Regions from separate parts of the Homo sapiens genome. Here region 1 is linked to region 2. The links come from fine-mapping of genetic effects on gene expression. A gene starts in region 2. The other region holds a variant in brackets. All regions are shown on one strand. Distances are between the middles of the regions.

Region 1 (5,377 bases), 85 kb before region 2:
CACCTTTCTGGTATTTTTTGGATCATTTATGCATTCACTATTATGATCTATTTATTTATTTGTACCCAGTTCAATTCTAAGTGCTATGGCTTTATATAATTTGGGTAATTTGTCAGGTTATTTTGGTGGTGTACTGACTCTCCCAATGAGCAGATTATTCTACCAACTTGGATTAGCCTAACATGTAAACTAATAAAAGATTTTTAAAAATTGATATTCAAAAATTGGCCTAGTTATTTGGGCCTCATCCACCCTTTCCAAACTAGGTAGAACACAATTATAAATCTAGAAAGTAAGAAAACAGGACATCTGAGTTGCAAAGTTATCATTAAGCCCCGTGATGGTTAATATTAGGTGTCAACTTGATTGGACTGAAGGATGCCTAGATAGCTGGTAAAGTATTGTTTCTGGGTGCATCTGCAAGGGGGTTGCCAGAGGAGATTGACATTTGAGTCAGTGGACTGGGAGAGGAAGACCCATCCTCAATGGGGGTGGGCACCATCCAATAAGCTGCCAGCATGGCTAGAACAAAGCAGGTGGAAGAAGACGGGCTAAGCTGGCTTGCTGAGTCTTCTGGTGTTCATCTTTCTCCCATGCTGGGTGCTTCCTTCTATTCCTCCTGCCTTTGGACATCAGACTCTAGGTTCTTTGGCTTTTGGACTCTGGGACTTACACCAGGGGTTTGTTGGGGGCTCTCTGGCCTTTGGCCACAGACTGAAGGCTGCACTGTCAGCTTACCTACTTTTGAGGCTTTTGGACTCGGACTGAGCCACTACTGGCTTCTTTCTTCCCCAGTTTGCAGACGGCCTATTGTGAGACTTCGCCTTGTGATCATGTGAGCCAACTCTCCCTAATAAACTCTCTTTCATATATACATATATCCTATTAATTCTGTCCCTCTGGAGAGCCCTAATACAAGCCCATAGTTAATTCCATGGGAAAGGCAGAGAATAGCTCTTCCCTGACAATTCTGTGTAAAAAAGGACGGAATGGAACAGTATTAGCAAATACTCATGGAGGGAGAGTAGAAGGAAGAAGCCAGAACTATCAAAGGCACTGCAGGACTGGCCCTTTCAATTTGGAACAAAATCTGCTCAGATTCTCAATAGTCTTTTAACTTTTACCACTGCTTGAGTTTAAAAGTGCTAATTACTCACTCACACCCTTTGCCCTTGGGGTTTTGATCAATTAAGAAGTAGGCATAGGAAGCATGTAAGGATAAAAATATCAGCTTTATTCCTAACGAAGTTATATTGGAGAACATGACTTGGACTCCCGTACCCCAGGTTTCTACTTTGAGTTTTGCGTGTGTGCCACCGAGGCCCTACAGAATGCACTGCTGTCACCTGGGTAGGCCAGAAGAGTTCATCAAGGGGGTCTTCATTCCCAGCCACACCGTAAAAGACCCAGGCTATTCCTGTGCTAGCCCTGTCCACAAGAAGAACTTGGATATCAGACTTTGGCCATCTTGCTGGTCTGGTAAAGCCTTTCTAAGATGCTGGAGAGGAGTTGGTGATGGATAAAAAGACAAGGCTGCACTAGCTTTGACCCAATAGTTACTGAGAAATGAAGTGTTGATAGAATTTCTTCTTTTATAGGTGGCAGCAATGTGGGTAGAGGAAGACTCAACTCCTTCCTACAACACAGGGCAGAAATTAATACTTATAAAGGTAAACTTGACTTAAAAAAGAAAATATTATGGTGAATCTACTCTGATTATGAAGAATGGAGAAATGTGGTATATGTTTCAGACCAGATAGATTTCTATCAGAAGTATTTTTAAAAATATTTACGTTAGGGTGCTTAAATATATAACCTTCTATGATCTAGAACACTGACAAATATGTATAACCCTTCTCCAGCAATCCTGAATAGTGTATATAGTACACAACTGCCCCATTTTAGTATTGCATTGCAAAAGAACAAACACAACATTTTTAAATACTTTTAGTTCACATTTTTTAATGTTTAAAAACTATGTTAACAGAGCAGTTATAGAACAGAACTTCTTATATTTCTTTATTTACACCACACTCTGAAAAAAAAAACCCAGTTCTATTTGATTAACTATGAATAGCAAAGTTTTGTGACTTGTGACTCACTTAAATCACCCATCTGAAATTCATTTACAAGGTTTTTACATTAATAAAACAGTAGTGTGGTACATGTATTGGACTCAGATGAAGTCTAAAGTACACTGGACTCTAGAGAGTGGATTACATACCAACGACCAAGATTCAAGTGTTTGGGGAAAAAAATACCTTAGACAGTCTATGTTGGCGTCAACACTAAAATAAAAGGCAAACATGCAGGACTTTCAAAGCTTGATTAGATAATGGTTCTTTGTTTTCTTTCCTTCAAATTTGTGCTCATAATTAATATTCAGGTTCCCTCTCCCCGCTTTCATAGATCCCAAAGTTTGAGAAATGCAGCAATTCAATTGTGAAAAAAACATTCTTCTCCCCAGCTTCTGTTTTCATATGTACTGTGTAGTGGTATCAGTGTTAAAAATGGAAGATCATTATGAAGAAACAATTTGTCATTTGGGTATATCTGTTTCTATAGGACAAGGATTTGTGTCTAAATATTCCTTACTTGTATCTCAGAGGACTATCTGTTAAATAATTGATCTTAATGCCAGCATAAGAAATCAAGGGAACTATTTCTCAGACATTTCTTTCTCTAAATTAAGTAGGGTTTCAGGTTCCAAGTTTACATTGAGAGAACTATGTTACCTGGGAGAGAATGTAAATTTTTCTAATTCCCAAACAAAACCACTAATTTCTAGGAAACATTTATTGTTTATATGCAGATCCTAGAGACTTCTATTTCAGTGCAGATCAACAACTTCAAAAATATACAGCCTCCTATTTATTTACAATAATATTTACATACAAATGAAGTATTTCCTGCAATAAGCCTCAGCTGCATAGATTCTTCCTTTAAAAACGTAAATTTGAGCCTGTATACAGATGGGCCCAGTTTCATAGCCCTTCCTTAGATAAAAGCCTAAAGAA[G/T]GAAAATGTCTGCACCTTGTGAACTTTACATATTTTGCAAGAACTTTCTCTTTGAGATTTAGTGATAGTTTTTAGTTGTTAGACACCCCACCTTCAGCTTGTACCTGAAAGCTTTATCTCGTTATAAATAATTCACTGTAATTTAGGGGAAGTATGTCCTGTTGCTAAAGGATTCTCAAACCTGCCATCCCCAAGGAAAATCATGTATTAGTATTGCTAAATGATGGTCTGTATATTCTTTGTTTTGAAGGTGGCTAGATGTTTGCTGTAAACTTGAATGGGAGAATTATATTCTTAAAGTTTACACCCCCTATAAGCCTAAAGCCATTTAAATTGATAAACTGAGAGAGACTAATAGATTTTGCTCTAAGGTATAAAATCCATTATCTGATCATATTCCTGACCTCCCCCCGACTCCAACTAAATGTGCCATAGTCCAACACTGTGCCTCACTGAATTGGAACTCAGTATTTCATTCTTTTGAGAGCAGTTTGTAGCTCCTTAAGCAGAGCAGACCTTTCAGTAGAGAATTCGCTTTAAAAGGAGGACAGGATTATCACCACACGATTAACACAAACACTGGAGAACTTCTGACACAAATTCAGTATTTCTTCTAAGTCTGCATTTACAAAGGGTCTTTTATTTTAATTTCTTTCACAACTGCCTCGCCCCAACCAAAGCCTCACTTTCATTTCCTCACAGCTTTAAAAAATAAAATATTATCATGCCTCAGCCCGAGGTAACACCGAGTGCAGGCAGCCTGTGTTTAGGAATTTGCACCTGCGCTGCTATTTTCAACGAGAAGGGGATAACCAGGTGGCAGCGCTGGATTCACTCACTTTCTTGCCATTGCAGAGACCCCTGCCGCCAGGCTCCTTTCCTCCCCTCCCTAAAGCCTGGCTCCTGTATGTTGCACCATGAGTCCTAGGAATCATCTGGTGAGGGAGGACTAATGGGAAGTAAAAGGGAGACTCATTGGCTTAGGGTGGTTCTCAAACTTGATGCGCTTTAGAATCATTTGCTGAGTCCCTCCCTGAGAGCTTCTGACTTCACCATGTCTGGGAGGGGGCTGAGAATCTGCATTCTAATGAGGTCCCCGATGATGCTGATGCTACTGGTCTAGGGGCCACACTTTGAGAACCACTGGCTTAGAGGCATGAATCAAGCTCTAGAAAGCAGTCAGTTCCAGGGTAATAGTCTTAGGTGCTCGCCGAAGCACTGAGGAATCTTACCACAACCCTGTGTCCACCACAAGCCCTATCACCATCACCCATCTGGGTGCTTCTTTTTCTCAACAGGGTCTGTAACTGTAAAAAAGGAAAGTGGGTGGAGAGGTTTTTTTTTCCCCCTTTTTTCTTGTTTTCTAACCTCCCAGCTTATTCCTGGAGAGTTAAAACACAGTTACTAGCACTAAAAACATTAAAAGTGCTGCGCGCTGGCCTCAATGACTGGTACATTGGAGAAGCTATGCAGCAGCATCCTTTTCTGTGGTGGGCAGGGCAGGAGATGAACCATAGGAGCCAAAAGTCAGACAAACAGAAGAAGGCACACCAAGCCTGAACCCTCCGGACAACAGCAGAGTTACCAGCTGAGGGATGTCCCTGGAGGTTTCTGACCCATGAGAGGCCCCCTCACCCTCCTTCACCCTCCTCCTACCACCAAGCTCTCCAGCAGTCATGGACTTATTCCTCCCCGTTTTTACTGGACACCATGTTTCAGGCCAATCTGGTCACCTGTAGTCTGGTGGCATCTCTACCCCTACTGTCCAGTAGGTGGGATGTGGCTGGGATGGACAGTCCAGATTCTACTAACAGGCAACTCTGAACAAACACCCTCCCTGGAAACAATATTATATTTGATGGTTAGATTCTTTAGCAAACCTATTACATTATTCGATGTCAGCTAACCTATTGGTTTGATCATCTTTTCCAGCTGCTCTAGGGGCCTAACCACCATGGATAACCTGGTCTCTAAAGGAAAATACATTCCAGGTTGCAAACAACCAACTGACAACCTTTTGGAATATGATCTCCTTATACACTGGGGCTGCCTGTGCCTAAACACAGTAGATTTCCCTCCTGTGCGTATTTCATCAGCCCCACTTCCAATAAGTAACATTAAGTAAATTAGGGATTGACAGTATTCTGTGTTACAATAACTAGAGAACAGTTCTAAGTCCAAAGTGTGGAACTGGCACTGTTCACTAGTATAGAGATCCTACCTACCAAAGGAAAACGTGCTGCTCCCCATGCCTAGGGTATAGTATTCTTTAATCTACTAATTTAGCAGAAAAACTTCCATAGCACTTGACTGTGCTGTTTAAATTCGACCTAACATCTGTGATACATGTATTTTTGGCT
Region 2 (5,377 bases):
TGAGGACAAATGTTATACCCTCACACCGCCCCTCCCGGTGAGTCACTCTATTTCAAGCATCCTCCCCCATCACATGATCCTGTTTTATTTCTTCATTGCACTAAGAATACCTGAAATGTATATGCCTACATTTATATAGTCTATTTCCCCCTGAGAACGGAAGCTTCATAGAAGGTGAAACAAATCTTGTTAGTTGCTGCCAGTCGCACAGTAAGCCCTCTGTAGAAAATGTTTATTGGCCACATTTTTTTAAAAAGCGAATAAACCTCAAGATTAAGACCTCAAACCAAACTATTCCAGTTTCCAATTGCTTACAGCGACATACTGAGAAATCGAGTGACTCTCAAGAGAAAGGCCATTTTGAGGCTGGGGTCGAACCAAAATCCAGGGGGTCCACACCAGGTCAGTACCCCGGAATTGGCTGTTTTGCAAGATTTCGGGAGTACCAAATTGGCATGAGACATTTGACAACGAGGCCAGCCATGCACCGAGCTCAGGTTTTATTTCCGTTGTCCTTCTGACGTCAGAAAAAGCACGAGTTGCTGCACAGTTTCTTTTATCAAGGTGACAAATTACACCCTCGCTGGGCCCTGCATTCTGCAAACCATAAATTTATTTTCCTCCTCCCCCTTATATTGAAAAATGTAAAAACCCACTGCAGAGAGGTCAAAACCCCTTCCAAACGCAAATAAATACCGTTTTCTAGCAGAGGCGTCTTTTTTCACTTTTGCTACACACATCACCGCGGATTCGTCCGAGAAAGTACGTGATCCTGGCGGCAGTTAGGTTTCTAACAGAGAACGAGGGTTTGTACAAACCCCGGGTCCGCGCCGCAGAGCAAGACAAAGGACTCTGAATTGTAGCACCACCTTCCCCAGCCCAAGGCAGCCTGTGAAAGGCACTGGGAGCGGCGTGACGCGGGTACCGCGAAATTCCTTTTGCTGCCATATGCACTTGTGCCTTCTCTAACTACAGTTCAGCACAAACCTCAGGCGGGCGATTTGGCAGGCAAACGGTGCCCAGGCAGCCGGGTAACCTACTGGGTCCCAGTGGGTGCTGGGGAGCCCCATGCGCCAGGAGGTGGATAATTTAGGGGGCAAGGGGCTCGCACAAGGGCGAAGATGCGCTCTCCTCCCGGCACCGACCCACGCGTTTAAAGGCCTCTGCGGCAACGTTTAGGGACGCGAACTAGGTGCCGGGGGTTGGGGAGGAGGTGGGACTGGAAGCGAGAGCAGTCTGCGCCCAAGACCGCGCAAGAGGTGGCCTTTTGTTCGCTGGCTCCAGCACATCCCGGCTCTCGAAAAAACACTACCTCTGTCCCCTGCCACCCTCTGCATTTTAGAAAATCCTCTTCAGGGCAGGAAAGGACAGTGAGTCACTGCAAGCATCCTTTAGTAATTTCTCCCCGCGCCCTCCTACTTCCCCGCGTTACAGAGGGGCAGAGCACCAGGAAGGACGGCAAACATGCCCCGGTTTAGTGGTGGTCCGCGGCCGCTACCCAGCCGGCCGCACGCAGCACCCCCCGGACATCACACGATCTCCTCTGGGCCTTGCGGACACAGGAAATTTTCACCAAAGGCCGGGGATTCAAACACTCCCAGAACACGGTCGCGCCCTCGGGTCAGCTGCGCTCTCCCTCCAGACGTGCGTGGTTCCTGGCTCTCGTAAAAATGGAACCAGATCTGGTACCACACTCTGCCACAGCCACAGGAAAACACACCAAAGTCACAGGAAAACAAACCAAAAAGTAAGCCACAGCCCACGCAAAGGTGAACTCGGGGGCCCTGGCGCTTCCTCCCGCTGCCGCGTGCGTTCGGGAAGCACAGGAGACCTGGACTTTTCCTCTCCTAAAAGCAACATCCGAAAGCATCGGGCACAGCCGAGCTCTCTCTGCTTTCACGCCCGCAGAGATGATTTCTACGTTACCTCCTCCTCCGACATCTAAATCTCCCCTTGCCGCTCGCCCAGCCCTCCCCGGGAACGGATAATCACCTTACCTCCGGAAATAAAGGGAAAGGTGGCAAAAGGCGATGTGGAGGTGTCCGCCCTTCCGGGGTTTTTACCCTCGGCAGTTTGATGTCCTTTGTGTCAAGGTCTGGCTGCGGAGGCCGGGAAAATGTGGCCCCCGTCAGTAAGGGTTGGGCAGGGAGCTTGGCGTGGCCTGGCGGATTTCGGAGGAAGGTGAAGGGCGGAGGCTCCTGGCGACCTTCTGGCGGAGTGGCGTGGCCGCCCCAGTCCGCGCTCGCCTGGCTCTCCTCCTTTCCGGGCCGATTGCATCAGAATCTCCCCTCACCACCAACCCCCACTCACACTCTGCTCGCCGGCCTCGCACTTACATCGACATGCACCGGCGCTGAGGGTCACGAATCGGAGTCATTCTCCTACTGGGGGACGCGTGGCCCTTCCGCAACCATGGCTTGTGATGGTTTAACGCGGACAGGCCATTCCTCCCCGTCCCGCGCGCGGTCTCCTCCCCTCCTGTGCGCCCGCTCTTTAACCAAAGCTGCGTGTCAGTGAGCCGTGCCGGTCACATGGTGTCACTGCTGGCGGCCGCACCTTGCTGCCTCCCTCTTGCAGCTCTCTGACGATGCAGCGACCGCGGCTGGCGGAGATTGAGCAACGGGGAAAGGGTGAGGGAGGGGTTGCGGGGCGCGCGTGTGCCCGGCGCACTGAAGCTGGCACCGGGAGCAGAGGCTGCGCGCCGCCCTGGCACCTGCCCCTCTCCCTCCCGGGGCCCGGCGGCGTGTTCGGAACCCAGCTGCGGCTGCAGCTGGAGAATGAGAGCCCTTAGGGATGGGGGTGGGGCGGCTAAAGGGGCACCGGCGGAGGACAGGAGGGCTGTGCGTTCCGCTGGGGCCTGCATTTTGGGTACGCCAGAGCCCCGCCGGGGCCGAAGGAGCGAGGGAGTTGCATTGTGGGAAGGGCGCAGCATGAGGATGGCCGCGGGAGTGGCAGGTCCGAGCGCAGCCCGGAGAGCCGCGGGCAGCGCCTGGGACTACGGGCAGCGTTGGAGCGGAGGGCTGGCCCTGGGCACAGCCTGCAGATGGCCCGGGTTGGCGGGAAGGGGACCGAAGTGGCAGGGGCGGCGGGGAGCTCGGGCACCTTTAAAAACCCTTTGTCCCTAACCTGAAGCGGGAGGCACCTCCCCTCTTCCGGATCCAGCACCCGCAGACCTGGTCAGCCCTTCCTGAGATCTGCCCTGTGGAGCTCTGCTTTGGGGACTGGGTGTGAGGTGAACCAGAAGGATTTGCTGAGCACCGAGAAAGCACCGGCCTAGGCGCAAAGAGCCGGGGGCCAGCTCTTGGAGGGCCTGGAGACCCCACGTGGTCCCGACCGAAGGACCTGGTGCGTCCAGGTTAACGGAGCTGGGGCGCTCCAAGTCCGGGGGACGAGGGAGCGGCATGGAGGGGAGCAGGGGCAACTGGGCCTGGTTCCCTTTTTTCCCGCTTACTCTTTGTTTCAGACACAGCCCCCTTTCACTGGCTGGGCACTTGCTTGCAGAGGAGTTGTGTCTTAAAATGGCGACAGGAAATCCCACCTGCGCCTCAGCCAATTAGACTGTCATAGCGCGAATTTGCAGGGTGGAAACGCGAGCTTTTTATTGATAGGGAAGGTTCAGTCTCCTGTTCATGGTTCATCAAAACAGGAAAGGGAAGGTGAATCATAATTCAAAAATTAACTACCTGGAGCGTTTCAAGTAGACAGTAGTCATTGTATTTGGGTGAATTTTGCTTTTTCATCACCACTGGAAAAGCAAGATGATAACCAAATTTGAAACTCATCACGGACTAAACTTCTTATTCCCTTCGAATGGCAGTAAATGGCCTTTATTAGTTCAACAGTGGCTTCCTGAGAATCCTATTTAGAAGGCATGCTCTTGAGAAATACTGAAAAACAGAAAGTTCAGAGCAAACCAAAAGGGCAAACACATGGGCAGCCTAGCTCAGACAGACCTGCATTCAATTTCTTCCTCTGACACTTACTGCTTCCCTCATCTGCTTTACTTTTGTCCTAATCCTGTTTTCTAAATTTGTGAAAAAGGGGAGAAGAGTACACACAACATAGCAATATTCTATAGGTCATCAAAAAGTTGGTTCTTTCTACCTTACTAGAGGAAGCTAATTTATTGTGAAATTAATGATTTTAAGTAGTGTGCACCTTGCCTGGCACAAATAATTCTTATCAATAAGGTAAGAAATCTGAATAGGTAAAGTAGATGAACTGTGAGCCATAGCTTAATAGGCCTGTTGGAATATTTACCTTATTAAAGGCAGAATGTGTATTCATCGCTGTTTGGAGATTATCTGAACCAAGCTTGTCTTTTGGTTCCAATTTTAACTTACTTGCTAGTTTCTGTATATCAAAACGACTGCAGTTATTTAGCACTTTTTGAATTGGAATCAACAGTTATGAACTGAGCTCCTATGATATGGCAGCTATTGTGCTAAGGACTTTACATGTAAATATCTCATTTAAAGCTTTCAATCCCTCAGTTGGGTATTATCCTCTTTAAGAAAACAAGTACAAAGTTGAATTGGCCATGTTCACCTAAGACAGTAATTAGTGAAGGGGAAGCGATTCCCTTTCAGGTCTGAATTCAAAATCCGTGCTCAGTCTTCACAGTGGTGCTACAACCATTTGCAATCAGACATTCTTGGGCCTAGAGTTAGAAGGATCTTCACCCCTTCTCTGGATTTTAGTTGACAACCTAGAACCAGAGTAAACATCAACATGGAGGCTGCTGTTTTCTCAAATTGAGGCCAGGGATGTCTAGATGATTCCTCTATTCACTGTGTGCTTACTGAGAGACAAACAGCAGGTTAAACACTTCACAGATGGTCTCTCGTTTAATTCTCATGACATTCCTGATAGGGCAGCCTATCCTAATCCCTGACTCAAAGGTTAGGGAATTTATCCCAAGTCCACACAGCCCTAAGTGGCACATCCAAATCTTGCATCCAGAGCTGACTGGTAAGCCAGTTTTCTGTGGCTGGATCTAAAACGTTCCCTGATTCTGGAATAACCATCTTTGGAGGGTTAGTGGGTGGAAGGGGTCTCGGGCCACTCTGTCTCTGAATAGGAACCACTGCCCTATTTCAGTAGAGTCCAGGGAGTTAGTTTTCTCAGTAATAGGGTTGTGAGGTCCAAGAGACTTGTCGATAGTATCTAATGTTATTTGTGGACCTTTCCCATTTGAACAGATTTCCAATGTTATTAAGGTATTCAGGACACATTACCAGGTTTGACTGCAGACTGCCCTATGGAACTGAGAAAATTCTGTATCTGCTCTGAAAGTGATGCCAGGGAAGGAATTTGTACTATGAAAATAGAATTGGGTAGCTTTAGGTCACCTGAGAGTTTTCTTGTAGCCCCCATA

What was found. PIP is the estimated chance that this variant, and not a neighbour inherited with it, causes the effect.
Region 1: its variant is fine-mapped to the expression of SLC38A1 in whole blood (INTERVAL, PIP 0.96).

Annotation. Positions count from the first base shown.
Region 1 is chr12:46,181,121-46,186,497 of GRCh38, forward strand. It overlaps SLC38A1 (solute carrier family 38 member 1), which reads right to left. Exons shown (of 17, transcript NM_030674.4): 17 at 1,943-5,377. Among named protein-coding and RNA genes, the nearest start is that of SLC38A1, 85 kb to the right of the region's middle. The variant G/T (reference allele first, on the strand shown) is at 3,018.
Region 2 is chr12:46,266,529-46,271,905 of GRCh38, forward strand. It overlaps SLC38A1 (solute carrier family 38 member 1), which reads right to left and starts at 2,515. Exons shown (of 17, transcript NM_030674.4): 1 at 1,998-2,515. LOC105378248 (a long non-coding RNA gene) reads left to right here and starts at 2,543. Exons shown (of 2, transcript XR_001749101.1): 1 at 2,543-2,630. RefSeq lists enhancers at 6-989, 1,915-1,974, 1,973-2,955, 2,095-2,144, 2,195-2,294 and silencers at 2,705-2,884, 2,965-3,064.